2 separate regions of the Homo sapiens genome follow, and region 1 is linked to region 2. Evidence: fine-mapped expression QTL. Tissue or cell type: minor salivary gland. Region 2 holds a variant in brackets; the other region holds the start of a gene. All regions are shown on one strand. Distances are between the middles of the regions.

The links. PIP is the estimated chance that this variant, and not a neighbour inherited with it, causes the effect.
Region 1: it holds the start of ABCA7, and the variant in region 2 is fine-mapped to the expression of ABCA7 in minor salivary gland (GTEx, PIP 0.98).

The regions. Positions count from the first base shown.
Region 1 is chr19:1,036,253-1,044,252 of GRCh38, reverse strand. It overlaps ABCA7 (ATP binding cassette subfamily A member 7), which reads right to left and starts at 4,146. Exons shown (of 47, transcript NM_019112.4): 1 at 4,057-4,146; 2 at 2,826-3,028; 3 at 2,650-2,743; 4 at 2,281-2,422; 5 at 2,077-2,189; 6 at 1,856-1,938; 7 at 1,427-1,507; 8 at 1,002-1,212; 9 at 780-919; 10 at 412-528. The coding sequence starts at 2,891. It overlaps CNN2 (calponin 2), which reads right to left. Exons shown (of 7, transcript NM_004368.4): 6 at 7,691-7,837; 7 at 5,188-6,628. The coding sequence ends at 6,353. RefSeq lists enhancers at 2,302-3,099, 4,992-5,491, 5,492-5,993, 5,581-6,140 and a silencer at 3,011-3,150.
Region 2 is chr19:1,927,977-1,935,976 of GRCh38, reverse strand. No RefSeq gene overlaps it. Among named protein-coding and RNA genes, the nearest start is that of CSNK1G2, 9.2 kb to the left of the region's middle. RefSeq lists enhancers at 6,146-6,235, 6,334-7,216 and a silencer at 6,333-6,627. The variant G/C (reference allele first, on the strand shown) is at 4,623.

The DNA of each region.
Region 1 (8,000 bases), 890 kb after region 2:
AAAAAAAAAAAAAAGCAGGACGTGGTAGTTCACGCCTGTAATCCCAGCACTTTGGGAGGCCGAGGCGGGTGGATCACGAGGTCAGGAGATCGAGACCATCCTGGCTAACATGGTTAAACCCCGTCTCTACTAAAAATAAAAAAAAAAAATCATCCGGGCGTGGTGGTGGGCGCCTGTAGTCCCAGCTACTCAGAGGGTGAGACAGGAGAATCGCTTGAACCCGGGAGGTGGAGGTTGCAGTGAGTCGAGATCACGCCACTGCATTCCAGCTTGGGCGACAGAGCGAGACTCCATCTCAAAAAAAAAAAAAAAAAAGTGGGGGTCTGCACGGAGCCCACCTTCCCATCCACCGGGCCTGTCTACCCTCCTCACCGGGGAGCCACATCCCACCTCCCCAGCACCCCCGCACACCTGCAGCATGGCCACATTGGAACTGTCGTTCATGAAGGTGAAGATCCGGGGTCCCAGCATCTCCCACACCTCCCGGACATCCCTCAGCAGGGTGAGCTCCTCGAAGGTCCGGTTCACCTGTGGACAGCACCCCCTCCACTGATGACCCTCTCCTCCTCTGAGGACCCCTGCCCACCCCCTGCCCCCTCTGCCTTGCTCCTGCGTGTGCCTCTGATCCTCCGCACAAGCTGATCCCCCTCCATCGGCTAACTCCTACTTCTTCAAATAGTTTCCGTGACCCTCCGGCCTGGCCCTGGCCCACCTGGACTGAGGGTACTGGATGGGCTCTGGCCACCACCCTCCCACCCCAGCATCCAGGCTGCCCCCACCTGGGCCATGAGCTTCCGGGTAAAAGGTGTATCTGGTGCAAAGAGTAGCTTCCCGAGGATCAGAGGCTTCAGGCGTCTCCAGAGCAGGCGGGACAGCGGGTGGCTGTCCAGGGCTCCAATCAGCTCCGAGCAGGCGGGGCCTGGGATGGGGGTGCCATGAGGCCCTGCCCCCCTGCCCAGAGTTCCACTTCCCAAGAGGGGAAACCGAGGTCAGTCACTCACTCAGGCTGCTGTCTGGCAGGGCGGATTCTGGCTCCTGCCCCACCAGCTCCATCAGGTCACTAGCCTCGTACCAGTTGAGGGAGGGGCCCACTGTGCTGCTAGGTCCCCTGACACTGCAGAGGGCCTCTGACAGCAACTCCAGGGGGCCGCTGGTCCCTCGGGGTCTCTGCAGCAGTGCCCGAAGCTCCACCAGGCTGCGCAGCGCCAGGAGCTAGAGAGAGGTTACCAGACGGAGCTGGCAATGATCCCACCTCCAAGCCCTAACCAGGGCAGGGCACTGGGCCAGGGGCAGCCTCTCCCTCTCGCTGTCTAATCCTCCTGAAAACCCACCCAAGGGAAGTGCCCGGGCTGCCCCAGACCCTCCCGGCGCAGGCTGCCTGCCAACGTTGCCTCCATGGGGGTTGAGGATGAGTGGGGCCTCGTACCTCCTGGGCCAGGTCCTCAGCGGCCTCCAACAAGCTGTGCAAGGGCTCCTGGGCTTGGCCCAGTGCCAACCCCAGGGATTCCTGGGGAGAAAGACCACAAGGGGGACAATGATTTTGAACACTCACTAGGGGTCCAGCGCTCTGGCCAGTTCCCAGGCAGACCATACTATCATAGCCCCCACTTTACAAATAGGGAAACTGAGGCTCTGAGAGGCAAAGGGACTCATTGGAGATCTCACAGACGAGTCTTCCTCACTGGGTCAGACACACTCTGTCTGGGGGCCCAGACGGACAAGCAGCATCACCGCAGAGACCAGGGACAGCCTGGATGCCTGGAACGGGAGGTCCTTGGCCCGGGGTGGGGCAGTGCCAGGACATCCCCAGTGCAGTGTCCCAGGAAGTCAGCGCGGTCCCGCCCCGACACCCTACCGTGCGCAGCAGTGACGTCAGCAGCTCCGCGACATCCAGCATGGGTGGTTCCAGTGGAGACTGCTTGGTTGGTTGAGGCTGGGCTGGGGGAGGAGCGCACGGGAGCATGGGGCTGGGGGGACGTTGGTCTGAGGCACCCACCCCCACCCTGTGCCCATTTCACGGCCCGGCAAGTTGAGGCTCAGAGCTCAGCCCTGCCAGAGGCCCCCCGGCCTCCTCACCCGTGCTGCGTGCAGCCCTCAGCGTGGCGATCAGCTTCCCTAGGCCAGCCAGCGTCCTGTGGGCACTGGCCCCTCCCAGCACAGTGCGGGCATCGGCTAGCAGCCGGGAGACCCTGGGGACAGAGAGAGGGCAGGAGGCGGGGTTCCGGCCGGCACTGCAGCCCCGAGTTTGCAGGCCGGCCGCACCCACTGCCTCTGGCTCACAGGGAGTCGTTGAAGTTGCTCAGGCGCCCGGGCTCCTCGCCCGGTGTCAGCTGCGGAAAGCAGGTGTTGTTCACATTACAGATGAGACCCTGGAGCCAGGGCACGGTGCCCGCCGATGGCAGTGGCTTGTTTGGGAAGTGGCCTGCGGGGAGACGCCTGGTGCTGAGGCCCTGTGGACTCTGCCTGACTCCACCCCCATCGGGTCGCCCGGCACCGCTTGCATGCCTCCAGCGATGGAGAGCTCACTCCCATGCCATGTATTGGCGGCCTGGTGAAGGCTCCCTGACATGCACGGGGGATTCCTGTGCACGGGTGAGCCATCTGCCTTCCCCTACACACACAAAGTGCCTGGTCCCTGGGGGGGCTCACATTCATGGTGCTCCAGGGGCGGGTGGGAGTGGCGAACAGCCACCAGGATGAAGAAGAGGAAGAGAGGCCACAGCAATTCGACCAGGAGCTGGACCTGGGGGAGAATAGGTGGGAGACGGTGGGGGACAGTGGGGGCTGCCTGCCCACCCGGCCCTGGTCTCACACTGGGGCGTTACCGGCTGTCTCCGGCGATACATGAAATTCTTCCAGAGCAGCAGCATCAGCTGTGTCCAGAAGGCCATGGTGAGACTGGGCAGGGGACGGGACAGAGAGGTCAGGACAACGGTCGGGCTGAAGACGTGCGGTGCGGCTGCGGGCAACTCCCTGCCCCTTTCTGAACCTCATTCCTTTATCCCACAGCGCAGGGTTCCTGGAAGCTCTGATTAGAGCGAGGCAAACAGTAGTCACTCGATAAAGAGGCTCCGCTACCCCAGGGGTGGAGTAAACCAATGGGAGCGCAACCCGCAGCCGTCCTCGCATCTGATTGGCTGCCAGGACTGTCGCTCTGAGCAGGGCTGACAGCTGGGGACTTAAAGATCATCCTCTAATCCTCCAGGGACCGAGTTTGGGCTTAACGCTTTCGTCACCAGGCTCCACCCCAAGCCTCACCTGGAAGCCTCTTCCAGGTCCTGACCCCCAGCCTCCTGCCTGGCCCAGCCCAGGCAAGGATTCCTTTCCCCTCACTGTTCTCCGAAGATAACAGCAACGAATATTGGCAGTGCTGGACATTTCACACGCCCAGGGGAAGTGCTGGACTATCACCCCACTCTACAGAAGTGGAAACCGAGGCCCAAGAAAGCAAACCCAGGCACCCAGAGAGACAGGCAGTTGCCCAGCTGGAGGCACGACCCCAGCTCTGCCCACACCTTATGTAGCATTAATCGCTCAGAGGGACCGCGGGAGCCAGAGAAAGAGTCAGGCGAAGGGGCTGGGATAGAGACTCCTGGAGTCAGCGATTCCTGATCTATTTTCCTTGGGCCGGTCCACCTCTGACACAGATGGAGAATCTGACGCTGACAGAGGGGCAGGAAGTTGCTAAAGGTGACCAGGCCGGAACTGGGACCTCAGACCCAGACCCTTACGCCAGGGTTCTTTCCTTTACATCAAGCGGGACTTAGGATCTGGGGGAGTGGGCTCAGTTTCTCCATTTGTAAGACGGGGCAAGGGGGAGTGCAGGAGTTCTAACGGGCAGGGGGCTGCAGGTGTGTGATCGGCAAAGGCCCTCTTAAGGGTCCCAGATGTCCGATGCCCCCCTTGAGAATCAGTGATCAATTCAGCCGTCGTCAACATTCACCGGAAGGAGGTCAGAGGCTGGACCCCCTAATTCCCAGGGAACTTGCATCCCTCCCGGCCCCAACCCCGCATTCTCGAGTCTCGGGCCTTCTTCCCTCTCCGAGTCCTTCTCACCTTCCAGGGGCTCCGCAGCTCTTGCCGCCTTCCCTCCGCCCAGCAGCAGGCAGGGAGCGCGCCGCCCCTTAAGCCAAGTGCGCTGAGCTTGCCCGCGCAGGTAGCAGCGCCGGGGCACGCCCCTGCCTCTGCACGCTGCTATTGGGCGACCTGCCCGTCACTCACTGGCCTGCTCCGTCGGAGCTGCGCGGGCCAAGGGAGGAGACGGGATCACAGAAGGGCCTCGCCTAGCCGGGTTTCTTAAAGGGACCGCGCGGCTCTTGCTGCATCACCGTAGGGTGGCGGAGTGCCCGGCAGGTCCCAGGCAGGCCGCCCTCCGGGAACGAGGCTGCGCTGTCTTTGGGGAGCCAGGCTGCCTCCCCACGTTGTATAACCGGCTGCAATACCGCAGCTCCGAATTGCAGGAGTTCCCTCTGTCCCCGCTGTCCCCGGGGCTGGCCAGGCTCCCTCTAGTTTAGTCCAGACTCTGGGACTACACTCGTCCGTCTGTAAAGTAGGGGTTCCACTAGATCATTCGTTCATTCATTCATTCCACGAACGCTCCTCGGCTTCTGCAGAGGATGGCAGGAGGGGGAGGGGGCCAACATTCTAGAGTCTCCGATTATAGTGGCTACCCTGATTTTGAGGAAAACCCGTTTCCCACTCTGGAAGAAGAGTTGAAATAAACTCTTCAGGCTGGAGGTGAAGCTGAAATGGGAGCGTGTGGGTCCACAGCTTTGAAGGCGCTGGGGAGAGTGAGAGGCGTGGGGACGGCTCCCGCGGCAGGAGGTGGCATTGCCGTTGGGGCTTTGAGGATAAATAGGAGTTCGCCAACGGGGAGACATCCAGGCTGAGGCCACGAGACTTGCGCTGTAAGGTAGAGTGCAGCCAAAGCGCATGGGGGGCATTTGAGGGAACTGCCTCTTCTCCAAATGGCCAGGAAGCCCAGCCTCTCCCTCTACCCCAAGTCCCGGCCCTTCAAATCATTCATTCCACCCAGACTCACCTGTGGCTTCAGCTTTTGCTCCTCCTCCCAATGGTGAGGTGGACATTTTCCCCTTGATCCCCCCATCCCCCAAGACCTCCTCTCTCCCCACAAAAGCATCAAAGCAAAGCACGCCCTCATCGACGCCAACTCTCTTGGCCACCTTCTCTTCGTACAAACAGAGGTTTTATTGCGTTTGGTCCACAGTCGTATTTCACATTATCTCACGGAGCAGGTCCCCTGGGTGGGGGGTCCCTGTGCAGTACTTGGCGGGGCATGTGGCCGGGGAAGATGGAGCAGTATAAGCTGGTCGGGCCCAGAAGGGAGGAGGGCTGGGGGCTCCTTAAAACCTACTGAGGGGCTGGGCACGGTGGCTCACACCTGTAATCTCAGCGCTTGGGGAGGCGGAGGCGGGCGGATCACACCTGAGGCCAGGAGTTCGAGACCAGCCTGGCCAACATGGGGAAACCCCATCTCTACTAAAAATACAAAAATTAGCCGGGCGTGGTGGAGCACCTGCAGTCCTAGCTACTCAGGAGGCTGAGGCTGGAGAATCGCTTGAGCCCGGAAGGTGGAGGTGCAGTGAGCCAAGATGGCGCCACTGCACTCCAGCCTGGGCAACAACCACAACTGAAAAAAAAATCTACTGAGGCCAGAGTGGGTTGGGGCGGGGAGCATGGAGAGGGGGTCAGGCTTAGCCCCAACAACTCAGAATTTCACTTCCTTGTACGGCCCTCACTTTCTCCACCTGGCCCCGGGGCAGGTCTGAGGGTCTGAAGTCTGTTGGTCTGAAGGTCCTAGGCAAATCCAGTCACTTGGGAGCCGGAGATATTTAACATCACGGCCCGGTCCCCTTTCCCAGGGGACTCATTTCCTAGCACTCTCTCCACTGTCCTTGCCCCACCCCTGGGGGAAAAAATGTATTTTTCTTTTGTGAATACTTCCTGAAACTTGCGGGCATAGAAACCACAAACTGCTCAGCTGACAAAAGGGGGAAGAGGCGAGGCAAGCAGAAACCGTCGGGGACCGGTTCCTTCCAAGCCCAGGTCTCTTCTTCCCAGCACAGCCTGAATGTGCCAGCAGGGACCCTCGCCCTACACGTATTGGGATATGGCCTTGACCCCTTCCCCCACAGCCCAGTGGCTCAGCCTTGCGAAGGATCAAGGCAAAGGGGAAAAAAGCTCTGCTGCCTGATCCCACGCTGACACTCACAGACCCTTGGTTGACTGGCAGCACTGAACGGGTTAAGAAAAAAAAAAAAAAGATGAAAACACAGAAAAACCCAAAAACCCAGATGGGCAGACGATGTGGGGAGAGAGCGTGCTGGGAGCCTCAGTAGCCGGCCTCCTCCTGGTAGTAAGGGGGATATTCAGGGACCTCCCCCGGGTCCGGGCAGTCGCCGGTGCCCGAGGGAGCCCCATCGGCCACTGTGCCTTGCGGGCAGTACTTGGGGTCATATATCTGCCGGCCCAGGCCGAAGACCTGGCCGCTCTGGTTGGCGCCCTGCGTGTAGCCCATCTGCAGGGACATGGAGGAGTTGTCACACTTGTCGGTTCCCAGCTTGGTATCATAGATGTGCCGCCGGGTCCCGGGAGCCGTCATGCCCACCTGGAGAGGAAGGAGGGGTGGAGCAGGTCATGGTGGAGAGAAGAGGGGACCTTCACTGGGTGCACTGGCTCACGCCTGTAATCCCAGCACTTTGGGAGGCCAAGGTGGGAGGATCACCTGAGGTCAGGAGTTCCAGTCCAGCCTGGCCAACACGGTGAAACCCTGTCTCTCCCAAAAATACAAAATTAGCTGGGCGTGGTGGCACATGCCTGTAATCCCAGCTACTCGGGAGGCTGAGGTGGGAGGATCACCTGAGGTCAGAAGTTCAAGACCAGCCTGGCCAACACGGTGAAACCCCATATCTACTAAAAATACAAAAATTAGCCGGGCGTGGTGGCGGGCGCCTGTAGTCTCAGCTACTCGGGAGGCTGAGGTGGGAGGATCACCTGAGGTCAGGAGTTCAAGACTAGCCTGACCAACACAGTGAAACCCCGTCTCTACTAAAAATACAAAAATTAGCTGGGTGTGGCCGGGTGCGGTGGCTCACACCTGTAACCCTAGCAGTTTGGGAGGTCAAGGCGGGTGGATTGCCTGAGCTCAGGAGTTCGAGACCAGCCTGGGCAACATGGTGAAACCCCATGTCTACTAAAAATACAAAAATTGGCCGGGTGTGGCAGCATGCACCTGTAGTCCCAGCTACTCGGGAGGCTGAGGCAGGAAGGAGAATCTCTTGAACCCGGGAGGCAGAGGTTGCAGTGAGCCGAGATCGTGCCACTGCACTCCAGCCTGGACAACAGAGTGAGATCCTATCTCAAAATAAATACATAAATAAAATAAATAAAGATTAAAAAAAAAGAATTGGGTGGACCTTTGGGCAGTCCTTAAGGGAAAATGACACAGGGTGAGGTAGTAACTTCCCTAGAGACCCACAGCCAGGTGGAAATGACAGAGGCTGAAATCCAAGGCGGAGACAGAGAGCGGGGAGGGAAGCCGGAGGTGGTCTAGGGAAGGGGCTGAGACTGAGAGTGGGGAGAGAAGCTGGAGGTGGCCCCAGGGAGGGGCCGAGACCACAGGGTGTAGAGGGGCAGGGAGAGGAGTCGGGGGCACCCGGGCGAGCCCCACCTGGCTGGCACACTTGTTCGTGCCCATCTGGAGGCTGATGGTCGAGTGGTCCATGGGGGGCAGGATATGGTTCTTGGGGTCATAGAGATGCCTTCTCGTGCCGTAGGCAGTCATGCCCGACTGGCTGGCGCATTTGTTGGTGCCCATCTGCAGGGAGGTTCGTGGGAGAGGTCAGACTGCACCCAACAAGCTTCCGGTCCCTCCCTGAAATTGAGGGACCACAGGGCTCCATGCCGCTGTCCCCCAATGCTGCTGTCCCCCAACACCGTGGTCCCCCAATGCCGTGGTCCCTGGGGCTGGGGGAGCTGTC
Region 2 (8,000 bases):
ATCAAGTGACTCATGCCCTGGGCTGAAAATGTACATGACCTTGCAATTTTCCTGAATTTGCTCCAGGAACAAGAGACAAAGCTAATTCCCAGGAAGAGGAGGAGGGATCTGCCCTGTAGTTGCCCTTGACCAGGTCCCTGGGCCTCAACCTTATCTATAAAAGGATAGAGTTGAAGACGGATTGAACTGCCAAATTGGTTTCCTCCTGGTGCTGCTCGATTGATTGGTGATGTCTGCTTTGTGCATGGGAGGGAAGCAGTGTGGGCATCATTGGTTGATTGGTGATGTCTGCCCTGTGCACAAGAGGAAGGAAGGCAGGACAAACAGCAGCGTTCCCCAGTCAACCAACATCATTGCTTGATTGGTGATGCCTACCCTGTACACAGGAGGAAGGAGGTCAGGAGAAACATCATTCGATGATTAATTGGTGATGTCTGCCCATGTTGCCATGTTGGCCAGGTTGGTCTCCAACTCATGACCTCAGGTGATCCACCTGCCTCAGCCTCCCAAAGTGCTGGGTTTACAGGCATGAGCCACTGCGCCTGGCCCGATTCTACAACTTTTTTCTATTTCCTCATTTTAGATCATTCCAGAACTTTCTGGGAATTACACCCAACAGTCTCTAGTAGGGCATAAACACAGACTTGGGGGAAAAGAAGACCTGTCTTTGCAGCCAGTGGCGACACCCCTTCCCAGCTGGGAGGCTGGGCCTGCCCAGCACTGCATTCCCATATGCAGCGCAGCCAACGGAACAGGGCGACGTCAGGAAGTTTTGGTGGGTGAGGAAGCAGCACAGAGCAGGGTCTGCCCTCACCCCCACCAACCGCAGGGACAGAGCCTGGCGGCAGTGGGTGGCCCCAGAGCCAAGTGTGGGGCACTGGGATCTGCCTCTTCACAGGGGCACGGGATCCAGTCAGAGGATGGGTGACTCTGAGAGAAGTTTCTCTCCTTTGTCTACTTTCTCTGCTGTCCCAGAGAATGAAGGCTCATCCTGCAGCGTCCTTTGAGGGTACATGGCTGTGTGTTTGTGTGTCTGTGTGGGATGCTGTGTGTTGATGTTTGTGTGTGTCTGTGTGTATGTCCATGGATGGGTGTATGTTTGTGTGTTTTGTGTGTCTGTCTATGATGTAACATGTTGGTGTGTGTGGATACATGTCCATGCATTTGTATTTTGGGTTTTTTTTTTTTTTTGAGACGGAGTCTCGCTCTGTCGCCCAGGCTGGAGTGCAGTGGCGCAAGCTCCACCTCCCGGGTTCCCACCATTTTCCTGCCTCAGCCTCCCGAGTACCTGGGACTACCGGCGCCCACCACCACGCCCAGCTAATTTTTGGTATTTTTAGTAGAAACGGGGTTTCACCGTGTTAGCCAGGATGGTCTAGATCTCCTGACCTTGTGATCCACCCACCTCGGCCTTGCAAAGTGCTGGGATTACAAGCGCGAGCCACTGCGCCCGGTCATATTTTGTGTTTCGTGTTTTGTTTTTCTGAGACAGGGTCTCCCTCTGTCACCCAGGCTGGAGTGCAGAGATTCAATCATAGCTCACTGCAGCCCTCACTTCCCAGGCTCAAGTGATCCCCCTGCCTCGGCCTCCCAAAGTGTTGGGATTACAGGCATGAGCCACCGCAACCGGCCTGCATTTTGTATATGTGTTTGTTGTTTTCCAGTGTGTATGTCCATGTACATGTGTGCACGGGTGTGTGTGTGTTAGGTGTGTCTGTGTGAGGTGGCATGTTGGTATGTGTGGTCCATGTGTTCATGCATTTGTGTCATATGTATCTGCGTACATGTGTGCATATGTATGTGTGTGCACATGTCTGTCTCTGGGTCTTTGTGTGCGTGGGTGTGTGTGCGCACCTGTGCATCTGGGTGTGTGTGTGTGTGTTCGTCGGTGGGTCTATGGGGGGGTGTGCATTTGTGTGCCTGTGTTTGGCATGCCTGTGTGTGGTGTGTGTTGGTTTGTGTATTGTGTGTGTGAGCATGTGAGTGCCTGCATGGGGGGTATTCAGGAACGCTGCTGTGAATGGCATCGCTCAGCGTCAGGGAACCGTCTTGCTCCAGGTTTTGGGCTGTTTCATGGAGGCTGGGGGATGTTCTTGTTGATGATGCAGCCCACTTGGACTTAACTTATTTTTGGTCATATTGCACCTAAATGGTCCTCCTGGCATTCACTCTGTTCATTTGCCCCTGGTGCCTGGGGACTCCTCCCATGGTGGTGACCAGGGTCTCTCCCACATCTCTTGTCACCAAGGCCAGCCACAGAGGGCAGCCTGCAGTGGACAGGGTGCAGGACAGGGCAACAATGACCATGATGCTTCATGGAAGATGTGAGCTCCCCCCAGGGAGCCTCCCATCCAGAGCCCCCACCCCTCAGCTCGATGGAATGCCCAGCCCCTTGGTGCTGCAACCCCAGTAGGAGGGTGGCATCCTGGACCCAGGCAACAGGGATGCTGCATGCCACAAACACTGAGACACAAAGAAGAAGTGGTTCAAAAGCTGGGTGTGATGGTCACAGATTCTTTGCTGCTCCTCCCACGGAAAGACACAGTTCATTTCCCCTCCCCTGAATGTAGCTGCTCCTGTGACCTGTTTTAGCAACAGAAGGCAGGGGAAGTGGTGCCTTGAGACTTCTGAGGGAGGGTCTTACGAGCTCGACAGTAGGCTGGGCATGGTGCTTACACCTGTCATCCCAGCACTTGGGGAGGCCGAGGCGGGCAGATCACCCGAGGTCAGGAGTTTGAGACCAGCCTAGCCAGCACGGTGAAACCCTGTCTCTACTAAAAATACAAAATTAGCTGGGCGTGGTGGTGGGCACCTGTAATCCCAGCTACTCGGGAAGCTGAGGCAGTAGAATCACTTGAACCTGGGAGGTGGAGGTTGCAGTGAGCCGAGACTGCGCCATTACACTCCAGCCTGGGTGACAGAGTGAGACTGTGTCTCAAAAAAAAAAAAAAAAAAAAAAGAACTCAACAGCGTCCTTTCTGCTTGGAACCCAGCTGCCATCTTGTGAGGCAGCCACCTGGAAGCCCCTGGGTGATGGCACCACTGAGCAGGCACCACCTGCCAGCCCTGTGAGTGAGCTACCTCAAACATTCCCGGCCAGGGAAAGCCACTAAATGATTGCTGATTACCCCCCATCACCACAGGGAGCAGAACTGCCCAGCTGAGCCCGGACACCCCGCATCATGTCAGATATAATCCACTGCCATTCTACCTTAGCCACCCCAAATCCCTAGGGCTGAATGAGGTCATCAAATAATGATTCCTCTCCCACTTTCTCCCCTCTGCTAGTCCCTGGCAGACTGGAGGATGGCCCAGAGGCAGCCAGGTGAGGGGTGACGCCCTTCAAGGCCCTGCTCCAGTGGTCCTCACCAACTACAACCGCCCTGCAGAGCCCCGCTGTGCCCTGCACCTGCTCCCCGGCCCTCATGCCGCTGCCAGGAGTGTCTGTGCTCATCTGTCTTCTCTCCCCTCCAGCCTGAGAAAGCTCCTTCTTCCCACCCCTTACCAGAAATATAAATTGGCCGGGCGCGGTGGCTCATGCCTGTAATCTCAGCACTTTGGGAGGCTGAGGCAGGCAGATCACGAGGTCAGGAGATCGAGGCCATCCTGGCTAACATGGTGAAACCCCGTCTCTACTAAAAATACAAAAAATTAGCCAGGCATGGTGGCGGGCGCCAGTAGTCTCAGGTACTTGGGAGGCTGAGGCAGGAGAATGGCGTGAACCCAGGAGGCAGAGCTTGCAGTGAGCCAAGATGGTGCCGCTGCACTCCAGCCTGGGTGACAGAGTGAGACTCCGTCTCAAAACAAAAAAAAAGAAAAAAAGAAATATAAATTTACTCCTTGCCCCTTCTGTGTTTCAAAGGAGGGTGGCTTTTCAAAGTCCCCACAATGGGGACAGCATTCGAGGCTGCCTCAATGGCTGGTTCCACTTCGCAGCCCCATCTATCCATCAGGACGCCCTCTGCACCCATACTGACTTGTTCCTTTCCAACCCACCCTGACCCTCCACCCATCTGAGCCTTGTCTGGCTTCTCTCAGCCCAACAGGTCTGGCAAAGCTCAGGCAGATGATCACCTCTTTTGGGAGGACTCCATGATACATCAGGCCAAATGAATCCAACCCACCAGCCTCTGGAACTGCTTTCGTCCATGTACTTATGTGTTCTGCCTTCCATGATGGATATTCATGGTCTGTCTGCCCCACTAGGCAGCAGCTCCTGAGGACAGGAACTAAACCTCTTTAAAATGCCTTCAAAAACCCTGCCATGCACCCTGATACAGCCCTAGTTAGTGTACATATTATTATCAGGTTTCTGAAGATAATCCAGGAACACCTATTGTATCAGTCAGCTACTGCTGCATAACAAATTATACCAAACTCAGTGGCCTAAAACAACACATGTCTTTGTGATATGACTGGTGAAATAAATTAAGCAAAAACAAATTATTATTTTTTTTAATAAAAAAGAAGAGGCTGGGAGCCATGGCTCATGCCTGTAATCCCAGCACTTTGGGAGGCTGAGGCAGGCAGATCACCTGAGGTCAGGGGTTTGAGACCAGCTTGGCCAATATGGTGAAACCCAATCTCTACTAAAAATACACAAAAATTAGCTGGGTGTGGTG[G/C]CGGGCGCCTGTAGTCCTGGCTACTTGGGCGGCTGAGGCAGGGAAATCTCTTGAACCTGGGAAGCAGAGGTTGCAGTGAACCGAGATCGCACCACTACACTCCAGCCTGGGCAAAGAGCAAGACTCCATCTCAAATAAATAAATAAATAAATAAATAAATAAAACAAAAATAAAATTAATAAATAAAACAACAGACATCTTATCAAGTTTCTGGGGCTCAGAAGACTGGAAATGACTCAACTGGGGGGCCAGGCATGGTGGCTCATGCCTGTAATCCCAGCACTTTGGGAGGCTGAGGCGGGTGAATCACCTGAGGTTGGGAGTTTGAGACCAGCCTGACCAGCAAGGAGAAACAGAAACCCTGTCTCTGCTAAAAATACAAAAGTTAGCTGGGCATGGTGGCACATGCCTGTAGTCCCAGCTACTCTGGAGGCTGAGGCAGGAGAATTGCTTGAACCCAGGAGGTGGTGGTTGTAGTGAGCCGAGATCACGCCACTGCACTCCAGCCTGGGCAACAAGAACAAAACTCCGTCTCAAAAAAAAAAAAAGAAAAGAAAAAAATGACTCAACTGGGTGGCTCACGCCTGTAGTCCCAGCACTTTGGGAGGCTGAGGCGGGTGGATCACTTGAAGCCAGGAGTTCGATACCAACCTGGCCAACATGGCAAAAACTAGTTTCTACTAAAAATATAAAAATTAGCTGGGTGTGGTTGGTGGCGTGCACCTGTAATCCCAGCTACTTGGGAGGCTGAGGCAAGAGGATCGCTTGAACCTGGGAGGTGGAGGTTGCAGTGAGCCGAGATTGTGCCACTGCACTCCAGTGTGGGCGACAGAGTGAGTCTCTCTGTCTGTCTCTCTCTCTCTCTCTCTCACACACACACACACACACACACACACACACACAGCTTGAGATTGTGCGTTCATGCTGGGAAATCGTGAGACATCCCAAACATCACATTCACCCTCCTAAATTGCTGTTGGAAGGCGATGGCTCCCTCATGTGGAAGAAGGATTTAGCAGTGGGGTTTGTGGAGGCGTAGGCAGGGTGAGGGGCAGCAACGCGGAATGACACAGCCCCTGGGGTTGGCAACAGTGGGCGCCTTACAGGTGGGGGATGGGCTGCAGAGAGGGACCCCCATGGACAGGCTGTCCTCTAGAGGGAGGAGGCCAGGGACCGACAATCGGCCTCACTTCCCCTCCCTCACTCTTCCTCCCTCACTCTCCCAGCCCCCTGCCCCCTGGTGCAAGTCCCCAGCTGGACCCCGCTGGGATGGAAGCTGAAGCCAGAGGGTTGAGGATCCGTCCCTGCAGTGCCCCCAGGCCTGGGTCCGGGCGTGGAGCTCAGTGGCAGGGGTGGAGGGGGAGCCTGGAGGGCCCAGCCCAATGAAGCCATCACAGTCACTCTTTTAGTGATGCCCACCCCGGGGACTCACCACCAGGGGCAGTAGCCATGGGGGGGGGCACACGATGCCCCCAGCTGCCCGCCAGGTCCCCCGCCATGCCTGCAGTTCCGTCTTCCTTTCCTCATTCCCTGGATCGCCCCTGTGACCCTGAAGGGGACGTGGCCACTCAGGAGCCACATCATGCCGGCTGCACCTTGTCCAGAGGCGGACACTCCCCATTTTTTTTCTTTTCTTTTCTTTTTTTTTTTTTTTTTTTGAGAAGGAGTTTCACTCTTGTCGCCCAGGCTGGAGTGCAATGGTGCGCTCTCAGCTCACTGCAACCTCTGCCTCCCGGCAGATTCTCCTGCCTCAGCCTCCCAAAGGGCTGAGATTACAGGCGTGACCCACCCCTGCGAGAGTTTCTATTAGAACCTGAAGCCCGGGAGCCAGGGCAGAGCCCGTCCGACTGGAGTCCGAGGTCGCCCTCTGGCGGCCGAGCGGAGGGCGGCGGGGTCGACCTCCGAAGGGAAGACGGGGCAGTGACTGGGGCGACAGTTTGCAGAAAGAGGGGCGTGATATTTAGGACGCACAGCAGAGGCTGCGGTCCCCGTCAGTACCCTGCAGCACCTGTCACTCCTGAACATGTAAACGCACACACGCATTCACACATGCAAACACGCATCGGTTTGCTAGGGCTGCCTTGACAGGTACCGCAGACCCGGCGGCGCAAACACCTGTTTATTCTCTCTCGGTTCTGGGGCTGCGAGTCCCAGACGAAGGTGTGAGCGACGCTGGATCCTTCTGAGCCCGAGTGGACTCTGTCCCAGGCCTCTCTTGGCGGTGACCGGCGTTCTTGGCTTGCGAAAGCTTCACCATGGTGTTCGTCCTGTGTGTGTCTGTGTCCCAAATTTCCCTTTTTTTTTTGTCTTGCTCTGTCACCCAGGCTGAAGTGCAGTGGTGTGATCTTGGCTCACTGCAACCTACACCTCCCGGTTCAAGCGATTCTCCCACCTCAGCCTCCCAAGTAGCTGGGATTACAGGTGTGCATCACCACGCCTGGCTAATTTTTTGTATTTTTAGTAGAGACGGAGTTTCACCATGTTGGCCAGGCTGGTCTTGAACTCCTGACCTCAGATAATCCACCCGCCTCGGTGTGCCAAAGTGCCGGGATTACAGACGTGAGCCACTGCACCTGGCTTTTTTTTTTTTTTTTTTTTTTTGAGATAGGGTCTCTCTCTGGCACCCAGGCTGGAGTGCAGTGGCGCCGTTAACAGCTCACTGCAGCCTCAATCTCCTGGACTCAAGCAATCCTCCCACCTCAGCCTCCTGAGTAGCTGGGAATGCACGCATGTGCCACCATGCCCTGACACTTTTTGTATTTTTTGTGGAAATGAGATCTTGCTATGTTGCCCAGACTGGTTTCAAACTCTTGGTCTCAAGCAATCCTCCCACCTCGGCCTCCTGAGTAGCTGGGACTACAGGCGCATGCCACCATACCTGGCTAATTTTAATTTTTTTTGTAGATATAGGGTCTCACTATGTTGCCAAGGCTGGTCTTGAACTCCTGGGCTCAAGCAATCCTCCTGCCTCTGCCTCCCAAATTGCTGGGATTACAGGTGAGAGCCACTGGGCCCAGCTCAAATTTCCTGTTTTATGTAAAGGACACCAGTCACACTGGATCAGTGCCCACCCTACTCCAGAATGAAGTCATCTTAACTATATAATTTCATCCTCAATGACCTTATTTCCAAGCAAAGTCACATTCTGAGGTCCTGGGGCTTAGGGTGTGAACATATGGGTATTGGGGAGGACCTAATTCAATCTGTAATAAAGCACAGACACTCATAGACACACAGATGCACATACACACACACACATACGATACACACGCAACACAAGCACAACACACACAGACCAGCATCTATGACTCTCTACCTGAGGGCGGAGCTAAGCCTCCCCAGCCCCCATACCATTTGCAGGGGAGTTGGAGGATAAAT